Regions from separate parts of the Homo sapiens genome. Here region 1 is reported to be linked to region 2. Evidence: microRNA targets listed by miRTarBase, many of them from high-throughput screens and not tested one by one. Region 2 holds a microRNA gene; the other region holds the end of a gene's coding sequence.

Evidence for each region. Region 2 holds the annotated microRNA hsa-miR-4729 (UCAUUUAUCUGUUGGGAAGCUA, at 3,806-3,827, shown strand). A microRNA usually pairs through its seed, bases 2 to 8, with sites in the 3' UTR of a target mRNA and lowers its output. Matches are read on the target gene's strand: a 7mer-m8 pairs with bases 2 to 8, a 7mer-A1 pairs with bases 2 to 7 and ends in A, and an 8mer does both.
Region 1: miRTarBase lists LIMS1 as a target of hsa-miR-4729. Seed matches in the 3' UTR shown: 8mer at 1,914-1,921, 8mer at 2,338-2,345 and 7mer-m8 at 3,927-3,933.

Annotation. Positions count from the first base shown.
Region 1 is chr2:108,683,294-108,690,400 of GRCh38, forward strand. It overlaps LIMS1 (LIM zinc finger domain containing 1), which reads left to right. Exons shown (of 10, transcript NM_001193483.3): 10 at 592-3,953. The coding sequence ends at 706. Among named protein-coding and RNA genes, the nearest start is that of LIMS1-AS1, 8.2 kb to the left of the region's middle.
Region 2 is chr17:59,362,287-59,369,286 of GRCh38, forward strand. It overlaps MIR4729 (microRNA 4729), which reads left to right and starts at 3,797; the gene lies at 3,797-3,868. The region is part of intron 2 of YPEL2 (yippee like 2); the gene reads left to right. RefSeq lists enhancers at 3,366-4,135, 4,136-4,905 and a silencer at 5,462-5,756.

The DNA.
Region 1 (7,107 bases), not on the chromosome of region 2:
TCTTTCCTTTAGATAAATTTATCTTTAAGGTATTCTAAAATGTGATTACCATCCTAGGCAATACGACAGGACCCTGTCTCTACAAAAAAAAATTTTTAAGTTAGCCAGGCATAGTAGTATGCACTTGTGTCCCAGCTATTCAGGAGGCTGAGGTGGGAGGATGGCTTGAGTCCAGGAGTTAGAGGCTGCAGGGAGCTGTGATCACCACTGCACTCCAGCCTGAGTGACAGTCGAGGCTCTGTTTCCAAAAAAAAAAAAAAAAAAAAGTGATTGACTGTACTTAAGTTAATTATATTTACATTAGATTTCCTGTTTACTTAGTACTGAATAAAATGTAATCTACAGTCTGTGTTACACAGATGGATGTATAGAACCAATTTATAAGGACTTTTTTTTAAAATTATACTGAATTTTTATATATATATCACAATAAGAATTGAGGTTAGGATTATGGTTTTTTTACTAACATGAATATAATATCATCACCTAGTTGCCTTCGTTTAGTTCAGTACAATTACTGCACATCATTTATATATCTTTGTTGAATATGTTTCCACTAACTTCTTTTTTTTTATAATTTTTTGTCTTTAGGAATAAGTTTGTGGAGTTTGACATGAAGCCAGTCTGTAAGAAGTGCTATGAGAAATTTCCATTGGAGCTGAAGAAAAGACTTAAGAAACTAGCTGAGACCTTAGGAAGGAAATAAGTTCCTTTATTTTTTCTTTTCTATGCAAGATAAGAGATTACCAACATTACTTGTCTTGATCTACCCATATTTAAAGCTATATCTCAAAGCAGTTGAGAGAAGAGGACCTATATGAATGGTTTTATGTCATTTTTTTAATTAAAAAAGAAAAATTCATATAATCGTGTTTAAAACACAAATGAAGTCAGTATTTGCCTTTGTTAACCCTTATCCATTTGTTGACATGTAGACTGTTTACAAAAAAAAAACACATGGTTAAATGTTAAATTTTAATTAAGGCCCCCAAAAATTAAATATAACTTTTTAAAATGAAAGGAGTCACCTTTTACATGACTCAGGTGAAAAAACAGTATAAACATTAATTTACTTTGTGTTCAAAAGAAAATTCCAACTGCTGTTGGGGAAGGACACAGAAAAGAAAAATAACCACCCAAGAAAAACAAAAACAAGAAAAACAAATCTTATACAATCTTAGTATATTTATCAAACTAGTAGCTAGAAAGTGAATATGCACATTACTAAGACAAAAAACAAGTGTAATTCAGAACTACTTGATTTTTTTTAGTTAAATGCAATAATTATTATGCTTAGTTTTATAACCTGCTCTCCTTGTGAATTCTTCCTTCAAATGATTACTTAACGCAGTAGTAATAGCTAGCTGTAGGATGTCCTTTAAATTTTTGTGCAAAAAAAAATTTATACCAGGTATTTGGAAATATACTTTACAATATTGGAAAATGAAGTATTTTTAATGTATTACAGCAATTATGTTTCTAAGCTTAATGTTAAGCATGTAGTCTTAGAATAGGACATGAAATTAAATTGTATGTAGCTTGGAATATATTGCTTCAGAAAACTGAATGTGTATGTCGGTCATATTGCCTTTATAACCATGCTAATATCTATGCTTTATACATACTCAAACTTGCCTTGCCTTAAAAACATACATACTACATACTTAAATCAGGAATTCTAGCCATCTCACAGAATACCAACTAAAACTAAGTGCATTGAGATCTGAGATTGGTAAACCCAGATTCATTTACCACAGCTGTAATTAAGTTTTTAGAAACTATTCTCTTTTTGGGGAAATCCATTGAAGTTAATTTCTGTTATCTTATTAGAAGAAAATGATGTTGATATGTGTTTCAGATTTTCCATTTGAAATCTTATAATTAATTTGATTTATTTACTGTAAGTAGGAGGTATAAATGACACTCTTAAATTGGAAGGAGGGGTGTTTTAGTGTCTGTTTTAGGTCAAAATTAGTGATTCTATTTTTATCAAAAGTTTTATCCTGAAGTTTCAGGACCACTCTTCCTTAATAAACTTGTTAATGGAAAGCGAGCTTTATGAACATTTAAAAATGTTGCTGCTGCTTTGTTGCTTAAAAAGAAAGTTGCCAAGAGAGACTTCTTAGGGAAAATATTTGGGTTTTTTTTCCAAAAATTGCTGAAATATTGTTTTGCCATTTTTAAAAAGTCTCAGGTTATTACCACTCTGCCATTAAATATTTGTATGCCTGCATTTTTAAAAATTCTGTGCATGTACTTTATGGAGTACATTCTATTTTTGTTTTCAGATACCCTACAACCAATTTTTTTTAGTAATCTTTTAGAATTGAAATTATCATAAATGATCGAGAATAATCATCACATAGTTTAAGATTGTATATGTTGAGTAGTTTAAAACAATCTTTGCATTTTACAGTAAGAATCAAAGTCCCTTCAGTGTGCCTTTGTCAGCTAATATGTGACCAGCAATGACAACCTTGGGAGTATTTATTAAATATTATGCTATGAATATAGGCAACACAGAACAGGGTTTGCAGTATAGCGTCTTGATGCTAAATTCTCATATACCTCTACACGAGAAATATGGAGGAGAAAAACAAGCATTTACATATATTCTTCGTCACTTTGAAGATGCATGGCCTGAACTCGACTGCTTGTGTTTGTTTACATATCAGGCATACCCAGGCATCTCCTGCAGCCAGAGGTTCCATTGCTGTCTTTGCTCAGTCCTCTTTTAAAATATGAATTAGTGGACAGGCACGGTGCCTCACACCTGTAATCCCAGCACTTTGGGAGGTCGAGGCAGGTGGATCACGAGGTCAGGAGATCAAGACCATCCTGGCTACCACTGAAACCCCATCTCTACTACAAAAAAATTAGCCGGGCGTGGTGGCGGGCACCTGCAGTCCCAGCTACTCGGGAGGCTGAGGCAGGAGAATGGTGGGAACCCGGGAGGCAGAGCTTGCAGTGAGCCAAGATCACGCCACTGCACTCCAGCCTGGGCAACAGAGCAAGACTCTGTCTCAAAAAAAATAAATAAATAAATTATGAATGAGTATTTTCTAGAAATTCAACTTGCTAAGCCTGTAATACTTAAGGGTAGTTTATCTAGATACAGTACTTTCTTCCCTGATAAGTAGTATCATTGGAGCCCTTAGGTATAGGAGAAGAGGAAGAAGTTTAAAAAGTGTAAGTGGGCCGGGCGTGGTGGCTCATGCCTGTAATCCCAGCACTTTGGGAGGCCGAGGGGGGCGGATCACGAGGTCAGGAGATCCAGACTATCCTGGCTAACAAGGTGAAACCCCGTCTCTACTAAAAATACAAAAAAAAACATTAGCCAGGCGTGGTGGCGGGCGCTTGTAGTCCCAGCTACTCGGGAGGCTGAGGTAGGAGAATGGCTTGAACCCAGGAGGCGGAGCTTGCAGTGAGCCGAGATTGCACCACTGCACTCCAGCCTGGGCGACAGAGCAAGACTCCGTCTCAAAAAAAAAAAAAAAGTGTAAGTGGATTAAAAGAGAAACTTGGTCTAGTTCATAATATTTTTAATAGGGCTTTCCCTGGCTGCTGGAAAACTTAGGCCAGTAAGCATCTCTTTGTTTAAAGTCCTACAAGACAATTTGAAATAATTCATTGTTCATGCCAAAATTCTAAGTACTGTTTTTCTTAGCAAGTGTAACATAATCAGGAACAATGGGTACAAGTAAAACATTCTTTGGATGATATTCAAAGCCTTATTAGCACTGCACCTGAATAATAGGTCATTTTGCCTCACTCATTTGCCAAAGTAGCCATTTCTAAGTTAAGGAAGTTTTTAGATAGGCTCATAGCCTTGTATTTCGTTTTAGATTGTAAGCTCAATGGCAGGGATACTATATTGGTAATTATGTTTTCATATAGCAACCACCACAGTATATTCTTGGTGCTTAATAAATGTTTATAATTGTTAACAATAACCTGTTGTATATTGTTTATTTTGAATGGTATATATGTGAAATACATATGAAAATTGAAGTATTCATGAATATATAATAGAAACAAGTAAATGAATAAAATGACCTGGTTACTATAGATAAGCCAAATTTTGAACCATCTAGAACAATGGTGTAGTCTTCCCTCTACTCAATGTAAATGCTGGGTTTTTTAATTATTATTATTATTAAGAAGGAGATACAGTCCAGGCACAGTGGCTCACACCTGTAATCCCAGCACTTTGGGAGGCCGAGGCCAGTGGATCACTTGAGGTCAGGAGTTTGAGACCAGCCTGGCCAACACAGTGAAACCTCATCTCTATTAAAAATACAAAAATTAATAGGGCGTGGTGGTGTGCACCTGTAGTCCCAGCTACTTGGGAGGCTGAGGCAGTAGAATCACTTGAATCCAGGGGGCAGAGGTTGCAGTGCAATGGTGTGCTGGGATTACAGGCAATGAGCCACTGTGCCCTGCCCTCAGCTGGAGTGCAATGGTGCAATTAAGTTCTTTCTTTTTCAACTCAAAATTTGTCTGCATCTTTACCCAAATATCCAGATCTGATACTCTAGGCTTGGGCTAATATAGTGGGGTGGAGGAGGCTTGGGTTAAGGTTTAAAGTTCCAAGGGCTGAACCGGAATAAATGGTGTATTTATCAAGGGAAGAGCAAGGCAAAACCAGCAAGTCCAAACCATGGAGGCCTCAACCGAGGTGAGGGGAAAAGTTAGGGAGCCTTAGGAAAGCTCTGAGGAGGGACCCCAATTAGGGGGACCGTAGTTAGGGTATGAGGTTTGTGAGATCAGGACTGGAATTGCTGCAAGAGACCCTATGATTGGGTGGCAGCAGCACGTTGTGGAGATGAGCCTGCTTCCTCAGCCTCTTCCTCTTGTCAGAACCCTTTGCCTCTCCCTACACACGCACACACACATGCATGCACCATGCTACAGAAACCTTTCTCAGTCTTGCCATTCTCTCAAATTATGCTTTGGTCTTCCCTTCATCTTCAGATTCTTTAAAGAGAATCAAAGTTCCCACTTCTAGCATGATGAAGTGAGGAGGTCAACAAATCTTTCCAAAATGTAACTGTATAGCTGGACAAACCATTTAGCATTCTGTAATTTTACCAAAGGCACCGCACAAATGGGGATGTGTTTAAGAATGAAAGCTGGCCAGGCGCGGTGGCTCACGCCTGTAATCCCAGCACTTTGGGAGGCTGAAGCAGAAGGACCACTTGAGCTCAGGAGTTCAAAAACAGCCTGGGCAACTTGGTGAGACCCCCGTCTGTACAAAAAAAAAATCAAAAAAGGCATGGTGGTGCACACTTGTGGTCCCAGCTACATGGGAGGCTAAGGCGGGAGAATCATTTGAGCCCAGGAGATTGAGGCTGCAGTGAGCTGTGATCACACCACTGCACTCCAACCTGGGCAACAGAGTGAGACAGACCCTGTCCCTAAAGAAAAAAAAGAAGAATTAAAGTGAGCCTTGGATAAGACCAGCCTGTGTCTGTGGCATCTTTGCCCAGGCTGCTACCCCCATTTACCCCAGCTGTTGATAACACACACAGCGGCCCCCAGCAGGGCAGCCTGTGGAGATAAGCTCCCCTGCCACCTCGTTGCAGGGGCTGGAGGCAAGAGTGAGGAAGGTTTTGATTTGCAGCATGGCTAGTTAAGGTGGTGATATCAGTGACCAGGAGGAAGAAAGGCCACTGACTCCTAGCCTGAGGCTCTGGGCCTTTGGAGACGAGCAAATGACCTGCAGATTAGTCATGGATGTAAGAGGGAGCTCCGGGAGGTCGGAGAGCCAGAGGGAGCTTAGTAAACTCTTCACACTACCCAAATGGACTGAAGGCTCATAGCTGGCAGAGATTAGAGCAAGCCCAAGCCATGTCCATATGCCCAGGGCACACAGCCTGTGTGTGTGCCGGTGCCAGTGTTAGGAAGTAAAAGCCGGAACACCCTTGCAAATGGCCCGGGGCGTGCCTCCTCCCCATTGCACATAGATCCAGCAGCAGATGGTGGAAACCATATTGGCTTTAACTGATGTTTGACAAACTATGCAAACAAGAAGCGACCTCTAAGAAGCCATTCTGAAAAATTAAAGCAAACAAATGCCAACAATAAAACTGAACAATGACCTGAGTGAGTGCACACTGTGGAGGAGACAGGCTTCCTGCATGGAGTCCAGCCAGGAGACAGTACAGAATGCATGGAGCAGCTATTGGAAGACAGTGAAAACTAAATAGTTGCAGGCAGCTTTCCCAAGAAGACCAGAACTTGAAGTACCACCAAACCAGTGGTGAGATAACCATGTTTCCCCTACGGCATCCCGTGACTAACCTGGCAGTGGGCACCAGGGTGCAGATAGAAAGAGCTCCAGAAGATGCCCTCTATTTCTGGCTCAAGTAACGGGAAAAGGGTCTCCTAACATTCCGAGGGAATCCAGAAGTTCGTTCCTCCCCATTTTTCTTTTCCCTGTTCTCTCATACCTCAGCCCACAAGCAGTCCCACAGTGGCACTGGCACCAGCCCCAAGAGGAGCCCAGGAGCCAAGATGTAGGAGGGAACCTTCTCCAACTGACAGAGCTGTGGTCCCAAGAGGGCAGAAACAATCCATGTTGCTTCTCTTCCAATTCAGTCCTCCCACTTCTTGGCTTCAGATGTAGAAATGCATGGTAGAGCCAGATACCGAAAGCCTGTTTTCTGCTTGGAAGACTAAAAAGAGAAGCCTCAGCAAATGAAAGCAACAGGGTAATTGCTGAGAGAGAGTTAATCAGTGAAGCAACCCCATTAACCTGTCTATAAACCCCAGGGCTCATTCTTGAGCTGCTCCTGCATAGATCTCGTCCTGTTCAACACACCAAAGATTGACAGCTGAACTGAGAGACCATCACCCACAGACACAACTGGCCACTGGGTGGTGCACAAGTCAGACAGAACTGAATAGTCCTGTGAAGACTTTGGACACTGAACTGACTTTGGAACCAGACTGCAGAATGGAGGGGTGGGAACTTGTGGCTTGAACCTAATCAGGTAGATTGCCTGGCCAAAATGAAAATACCTATCATCTCCATAGGATTTAATTTCATTCAATGATTTTTTTTTTAGTAAATTTGCAATGTTTTACAGCCATCCCCAAAATCTA
Region 2 (7,000 bases):
GTTTATCATGTGTAGGCATGGACAAGGGGAATTGGGTTCAGGAAGTCACATGCTTTAAATGGGAGGCAGACCTGTCGCACAGTCACGCCTGCTCCCTGTGAAAATTAATGATCTGGGCACACATAGAGTTGCTCACCAATTTAGTATCAAGGGAGCTGCTGGGACCAAATCTGGTGAATCATCTTTATGTTTTGTTTTTCTTTTGCTGCAGACTGCAGGCAGCTGGAGCACAAAATCTGCTCAAATGTGATTCTTTCTGTGTGGTTACTTTAAATACCAAAAGGAAATGTTGACTTGAGCGATGAGGCGTACCCTGAAAATTAACTCTGTGGTTTGCAGATGCCTTTAAGGTTCCAATCATAAGACTGGTTTGTATATTAGCGTCTAGGCTCTCAGCAGGGACACTGGTAATCAAGCTTGTGTTCCCAGTCAGAAATCCAAAGAAACTCTTTTTCATCAGGGTGTTCAACCTGGGAAGCAAGGAGTGGGTGCAGGATCCCTCTGTTTCTGTTTGAGCAGTGGCACTCCCTCTGGCCTCTGGAATGGTAAATCTGCACCATTGCTAGCTTGGCTGTTTGCGTTTGGGGGCTGACTAGAATCCACTGTCATACACTACTTGTTCAGTTCAATATTTCTTGTGCTTTAAACAACATTTAAACCTAGATGGTAGGGATAAGATGATTCCTGCACTTAAAGAGCCTGTGATGTTTAGGAAACAAGGGAATGCAAGGCTCACCATGGAGGGTAGAAGAATGTTACAGATAAGGTTGTTTGGTGTTGTAACAAACACACAAGATGGAAAATCTATGTTGCTGCTATTAGCTACTATTGATTGAACACCTTCTTAGTTTCTATGTATATATAGATATATATATAGAGAGAGAGAGAGACAGGGTCTCGCTATGTTGCCTAGACTGGTCTCAAACTCCTGACCTCAAGCAGACTTCCCACCTCAGCATCCCAAAGTGTTGGGATTACAGGTGAGCCACCACACTGGTCCTAAAGACTTACCCTTTTTTTTTTTCTTTTTTTTTTTTTTGAGATGGAGTCCCACTCCGTTGCCCAAGCTGCAGTGCAGTGGCGTGATCTCTGCTCACTGCAGCCTCCGCCTTTTGGGTTCGAGCAATTCTCCTGCCTCAGCCTCCCAAGTAGCTGGGATTACAGGCATCCGCCACCAGGCCCGGCTAATTTTTGTATTTTTAGTAAAGGTGTGGTTTCACCATGTTGGCCAGGCTGCTCTCGAACTCCTGACCTGACCTCAAGTGATCCACCTGCCTCAGCCTCCCAAAATGCTGGGATTACAGGCATGAGCCGCCGCACCCAGCTGAACACTTTCCTCTTTATTGAGCACCTACTGTGTGCCAGGAACTCCTTTAGGTATTTTACTTACTCCATCACTTATTTTACAACATCCTTTCAATGTGGGGATTAAGGCCATAGGTTACCAGGTTACCAAGAAGCCAGATGGGTTCAGATTCAGATCTGCTCATGTACTTTTTGCTACCGCTTCGCAGTGTGGCCTAGGTTCTTTTGGCCTTGCCTATTTTATGGTCTTACTCAGTAATCCTTGTGGCAAATCCCACCCTTTCTTCCCTCCTGTCATTTCCTTTGCCTTGGTGAATCCTTCTCCTTTCCTCTCTCTCTATTCAGTTCCTACCCATTCTTGAAGACCAGTTCACATCTTTTTTTCTTCTAGTGAGTCTTCCTGGCTTATAGGATGCTCTGAATGTCTGTAGAACTCACTCTCTGGTTGTTCATTTGGAAATTAATGACTGTCTTGTGGTATGGTCTGTGTTGTTATGGTTGCGTGCACTTTTTATGTATAATTGTCTTGCTTCCTAACAAGATTCTCAATGTCCTGGAGTCATAGATGCTCAGAACTTTGTGGCTGGAGGTACCTTTGAACCTGGAGTTTCTAGTTCAACTCCTCATTTTACAGATTAGGAAACCAAGGCCCAGAGAGAAACTGAGGGCCTCTTGATTTTGCACTTTGCCACCTCCCCCGACACACCACTTTGCACATAGCTGGTGCACATAGCCCTGGGAGAGGGCTGGCATCTGGAAGATTGACAGTGTCAAGCGCTGTGATCTTGGGCAAGACTGTTCATCTCTCTGGCTCTCCCTTTTCTTCATTTATCCAAATGAGTGCAATAGGTTAGACTGTCTTTAAAGTTCCTTCTACTTCCCCCCTGCGTCTTCTGAGTCTAATGTAGTAGCATAAGATGATATGAGGCCATATAACATAGCAGCTCGTGGTATAACTCCGAGCCCAACCACCTGGCTTATTCATTTAGTAGCTGTGTACATTAAGTAATCCCTCTGTGTCTTTTTTTTTTTTTTTTTTTTTTTGAGACAGAGTCTCGCTCTATCACCCAGGCTGGAGTGCAATGGCACGATCTTAGCTCACTGCAACCTCCACCTCCCGAGTTGAAGCAATTCTCCTATTCAGCCTCCCAAGTAGCTGGATTACAGGTGCCTGCCACCACATCGGCTATTTATTTATTTATTTGTTTATTTCATTTTTTGTAGAAGATGGGGTTTCGCCATGTTGGCCAGGCTGATCTCGAACTCCTGACCTCAGGTGATCCACTGGCCTCGGCCTCCCAAAGTGCTGGGATTACGGGTATGAGCCACTGCGCCCATCCGCCTTTGCGTCTTAATGGCCTCACTGGCAAATGGGAATAATAGTAATATTAGATACCTGATAGGATTTTTGTGGAAATTAAATGAGGTTATTGATGTGAAGTTCTTACCACAGGGCCTGGCACGTGATAAGTGCTCAATAAATGTTGGAAGCTAGTGTTATTCTATGAATAGTCACTAAAGAAAACCAAATGGAAAGTGACAGAACTAGGGCCTGGCACCCCAACAAGCCTGGCACTCTTGCTTGTTGCCCTTGTTTTTGGAGAGTCTCAGCAGTTGCCCTTGAGCCCTACAGTTGTCATCTGTCGTCTTTTGAGGCCTCTCCTCATGGAATCGCTTGTTCCTTATCCCAGGGGGACCAGCAGGTCTCAGGAGGTGATGAAATAGCAGCAGCACCTTCCACCACAGCTTTCTGGGGCCTTACCTGCAGGCAGCAGCGAAGCCTCTCTAGAATGTAAATGGAAAAGCCTGTCCCTGCCTCCTTCCCTTTTAGTCTGTCAGGTGGTTACTGTGCCTCTGACCCACCCGAGGACCTCAGTTGGCTGTGACACAGCAGCCCAGGCGGCTGGAAGAGAAGTCCCTGGCCTGGAGAGTGAAGCTGGAGCTGAGAGTTGCTTGTCAGTTTGATTCCTTCTGTGACACTTCGGGTGGGGGGGAATCTTTTGAAAGAAACCACTTTCTTTATCTTGAAAGAACAAAACCAAAAGAGAATCTCTGATAACCTTTGTTTCCAAAGCACTCAGCAAAGCTGCTGAGAGGAGGGTTTGACCTGGTGACCCAGAGTATTATCTCTGGGGTAAGGGCTGCCCAGCCAAGGGGAGCTTTAGCTGTTTCCCTCCTCTCCCTGGCTTATTGCTGGTGGCTGGACAGTGAGTTGGAGGAGGAGGGGGAGAGGAAGAGAGGAGGAGATGGCTCTGCCAGCTGCCGCTAGAAACAACAACATCTAATCAGTCCATAAACTCCCTCCCCTCCAGACTACAGTGATGTCAAGAGGTGGAGCAGGTGGCACTAGTTCTCCCCTCCCCTTTAGCCCCTGACACCTTTGGGTCTTTGAAGGGGTAAATTATGATCATCAAAAGGAAAATTCTCTATCTTTGGGGGCCCAGGAGCTCCTTTTCCTTCTTGTTAGGGTTGGCTCCACCAAGAGCAATTTTCTGTTTCCTCATTTATCTGTTGGGAAGCTAACTGTGACCTTAGCGTCCCAGCAGATAAATGAGGAAACAGAAAAGTGTTTCCTCACCAAAACAAAAAATCCCTGAGCAAACCCTCCTGCAGAGGGCCCTGTCATTTATTCCACATTGTGTGAGCTCCTCTTACGTGTTAGACCCTGGGAATTACAGTGGCAAACAGATGCAAGCTTTGCCTTCACTGAGCCTGTCACACGGTACCCTTTGGTTCCTGGAAGACCCAGCACCTGAAAAAGCGGTTGGTGGCAGCAGCAACAAGGATCTCCTTCCTGAGCCTGGCCCCTAAGGTTATCCGGGGCAGCTGAAAAACCAGCATTTCCATAGTGCTTTCCATTCAGTTTGCCTAATTTTCATGAGAGGCTGAAGTGCCTTTTGTTTCCCTGATGGTCCCTGTCCTCCCCTGCAGAGTCGGCCTGAGCTAGCCCAGCCGAGTCGGGCAGCCCCTTGTTCTCTGATGCATCTTTGGAGGAATGTCTGTATTCTCAGGACCAGGCCTCTCCCCACTGGGTGGGGGCTGCTTTGTTTACATTCCTGACCTTCTGAAAGCTGCCAGCTTTATCCACAGCTGGCCTTTCCCCTTCAGATGCCAAATGTTCCAAACGACAGGTACAACTCTGAGAGGGCCGTTAAGGTTCATGCCAGAAACATTCACCTAGGAAGCCTGAGGAGAGAGGAAGCCAGTGAAACTAGACTTCATGGAGCTTTTTGAAGCTCGAAGCCCCCATATTTCTTGATTCTTCCCGCAGCGGGAGAAAAAAAGAAAAAACACAAAGTGTGTCTGTGTGGGAGGAGAGTTCCTCCCTGTCCATCTCTTTCTCTATAAAAACAAGAGGCCAACCTGCTCTGAGCATCGTGGGGGCAGGTGCTGGGTAAATACACGAGAAAGGAAAGCCAATAAGATAAGGTCTGACAAATCTAGGTCACCCGGCTGCTGCCAGGTACCTGTGTGACTGGCCACCTTGAAACTGACAGGAGGAGTATGGACTTTTGTTCGAGGCTCAGCCTGGCTGATTTCTCATGTCTTTGTTTATTTATTCAGTAAACATTAATTGAGTGCCATTATGTGCCAGGCCATGTGCTAGGTGTTGCAGGTCCCTGTGTGCCTCTGACAGGCAAAATCTCCTCCTGGATCCCAGGCCTGTAACCAGGGCTAAAAAAAGAAATGACTTCATTCAAAAGCCAGTTGGTTCACTAACTTCCAGAGTAGGGGCAGCCAGTCCCTTGGTAGAAGGGAGGGGCTGTTTGCAGTCTTGATTCCCTGTTTTTTGGGCTAGATCCAAAGGTCTGCAAAACTTTTTCTATAAAGGCCAGATAGTATTTTACGCTTTGCTGGACATAGGGTCTCCACTCAAATCTGCAGCCACAGAGAATATATAAACAAATGAGCATGGATGTTTTCCAGAAAAACTTTATTTGCAAAACAGGTGAAAGGCCCAATTAGGCCCTTGGACTGGTTTACTTAACCCTAGGTAAGATGATTAGAATGACTGTTGTGAAATGGGTGTTGGAGAAATAGGTTTCTGTGATTTCAAGAGGAATCTCAAACCAGCATGGTGGCTTGTATGAAGAGTGTAGGGGTTGAGGCACTGTGCTAATTGACAAGGTCTTAATTGACACCCTGGTGAGAATTCTATTCCATAGGCCAGACTTCAGCCCCAGCCGTCTAGCACCCACAGGTTCCCACCATAGGTTACAAGGTGATCAAGCCAGATAGGGCACATAGTTTCCTACAGTGTCATCACTGTAATGGGAAGACAGTGTGGGGCCCTGCTGAGGAGAGTCTGTGGCACCATTTGAAAAGCCTTGAATGAGGGTCAAGCCACCTCTGCTCCAGACCTGGCTTTGTGCTAAATTTTCAGTGTGGCATTGAGCAAGTCACTTAACCTCCCTCATCACCCTGCATATATTAAATCCTACTGTATGAAGCACTGGGGATACAGAAATGGATACAAATACAGAAATGGATGAAATTCTCTTTTTTTTTTGAGACAGAGTCTCACTCTGTTGCCCAGGCTAGAGTACAGAGGCATGATCACAACTCACTGCAGCCACAACTTCCCAGGCTCAGATGATCTTTTCACCTTAGTCTCCTGAGTAGCTGGGACTACAGACATGCGCCACCATGTCCGGCTAATTTTTCTATTTTTTGTAGAGATGAGGTTTCTCCATATTGCCCAGGGTGGTCTAAAATTCCTGGGCTCAAGTGATCAGCCCGCCTTGGCCTGCCAAAGTGCTGGGATTGCAGGCGTGAACCGTGCACTTGCCTGGAATTCTTGCCCTTAAGTAGCTTATGATCTAATGGGGAAGGCAAATAGATAAACAGTGATAAAATGTAGTGAAACACAGTCATTGTTTCACTGTAAGTGATTGTTCCAGATGTTATGAGGGTAAAGAGCAGGATGAATGTTTACTAAGATGAGTGTTTAGAAGCATTTACTAAGTGGACAAGAAGACGAAGACAAGAGGAGTCCATTCTGAGCAGAGACAGAGAAACATGACACGAGGCCAAGTCCAGGGACCACAGGGAAGACAGATGGGGAGTCTGTGCTTTAGGGAAGCAGGTCAGGGTGGATCATGCAAGGCCTAGAAGGCCAAACTAAGGAGTTTAGACAGAGTTCTGGATGCTGTGAGGAGCTGCTAAAAGGTTTTAAGCAAAGGAGTGATAGGATTTTATTGAGATTGGATGAGAATAAAACATAGCCTATTTTGGAAAATCAACTTCTTTAGCTTCTGTAAACCATGTATCCTTGAGCTTTGTGTGATTATACAATGTTGATGTTGTGGAGTAGTGGGCATTGATAACATGCCATAGCTGTTTAAAAATAGTCAGGCTGGGTCCCTCCTTGGTGGTGCCTTCAGCTAAATAGCAAGCAGGTAGATCACTGGCAAACAGCAGGCAGTCATAACTCTAAGAAGAGGGCCTTTGTTAGTTCATGGAGGTCTGGGGGTTTGCAGGTCCTGGGCCCTCTGTCTCATCTGACACTCCTGGCTTCTTGAGTAAGGCTCCCCAAATCATTGAAAGCGGGCAATTGCAACTCCCTGTTGATGAGTTTTTCTCTAAATTTAAAGAGAGAATTCAGTTGCAGAATTCCAGTGGCTTTGGTGTAGCCATGAGGTTTGGAATACGGCCAAGTGAAGGTGGAAATAAGTAGCTTCTGCAGTCTTTATGT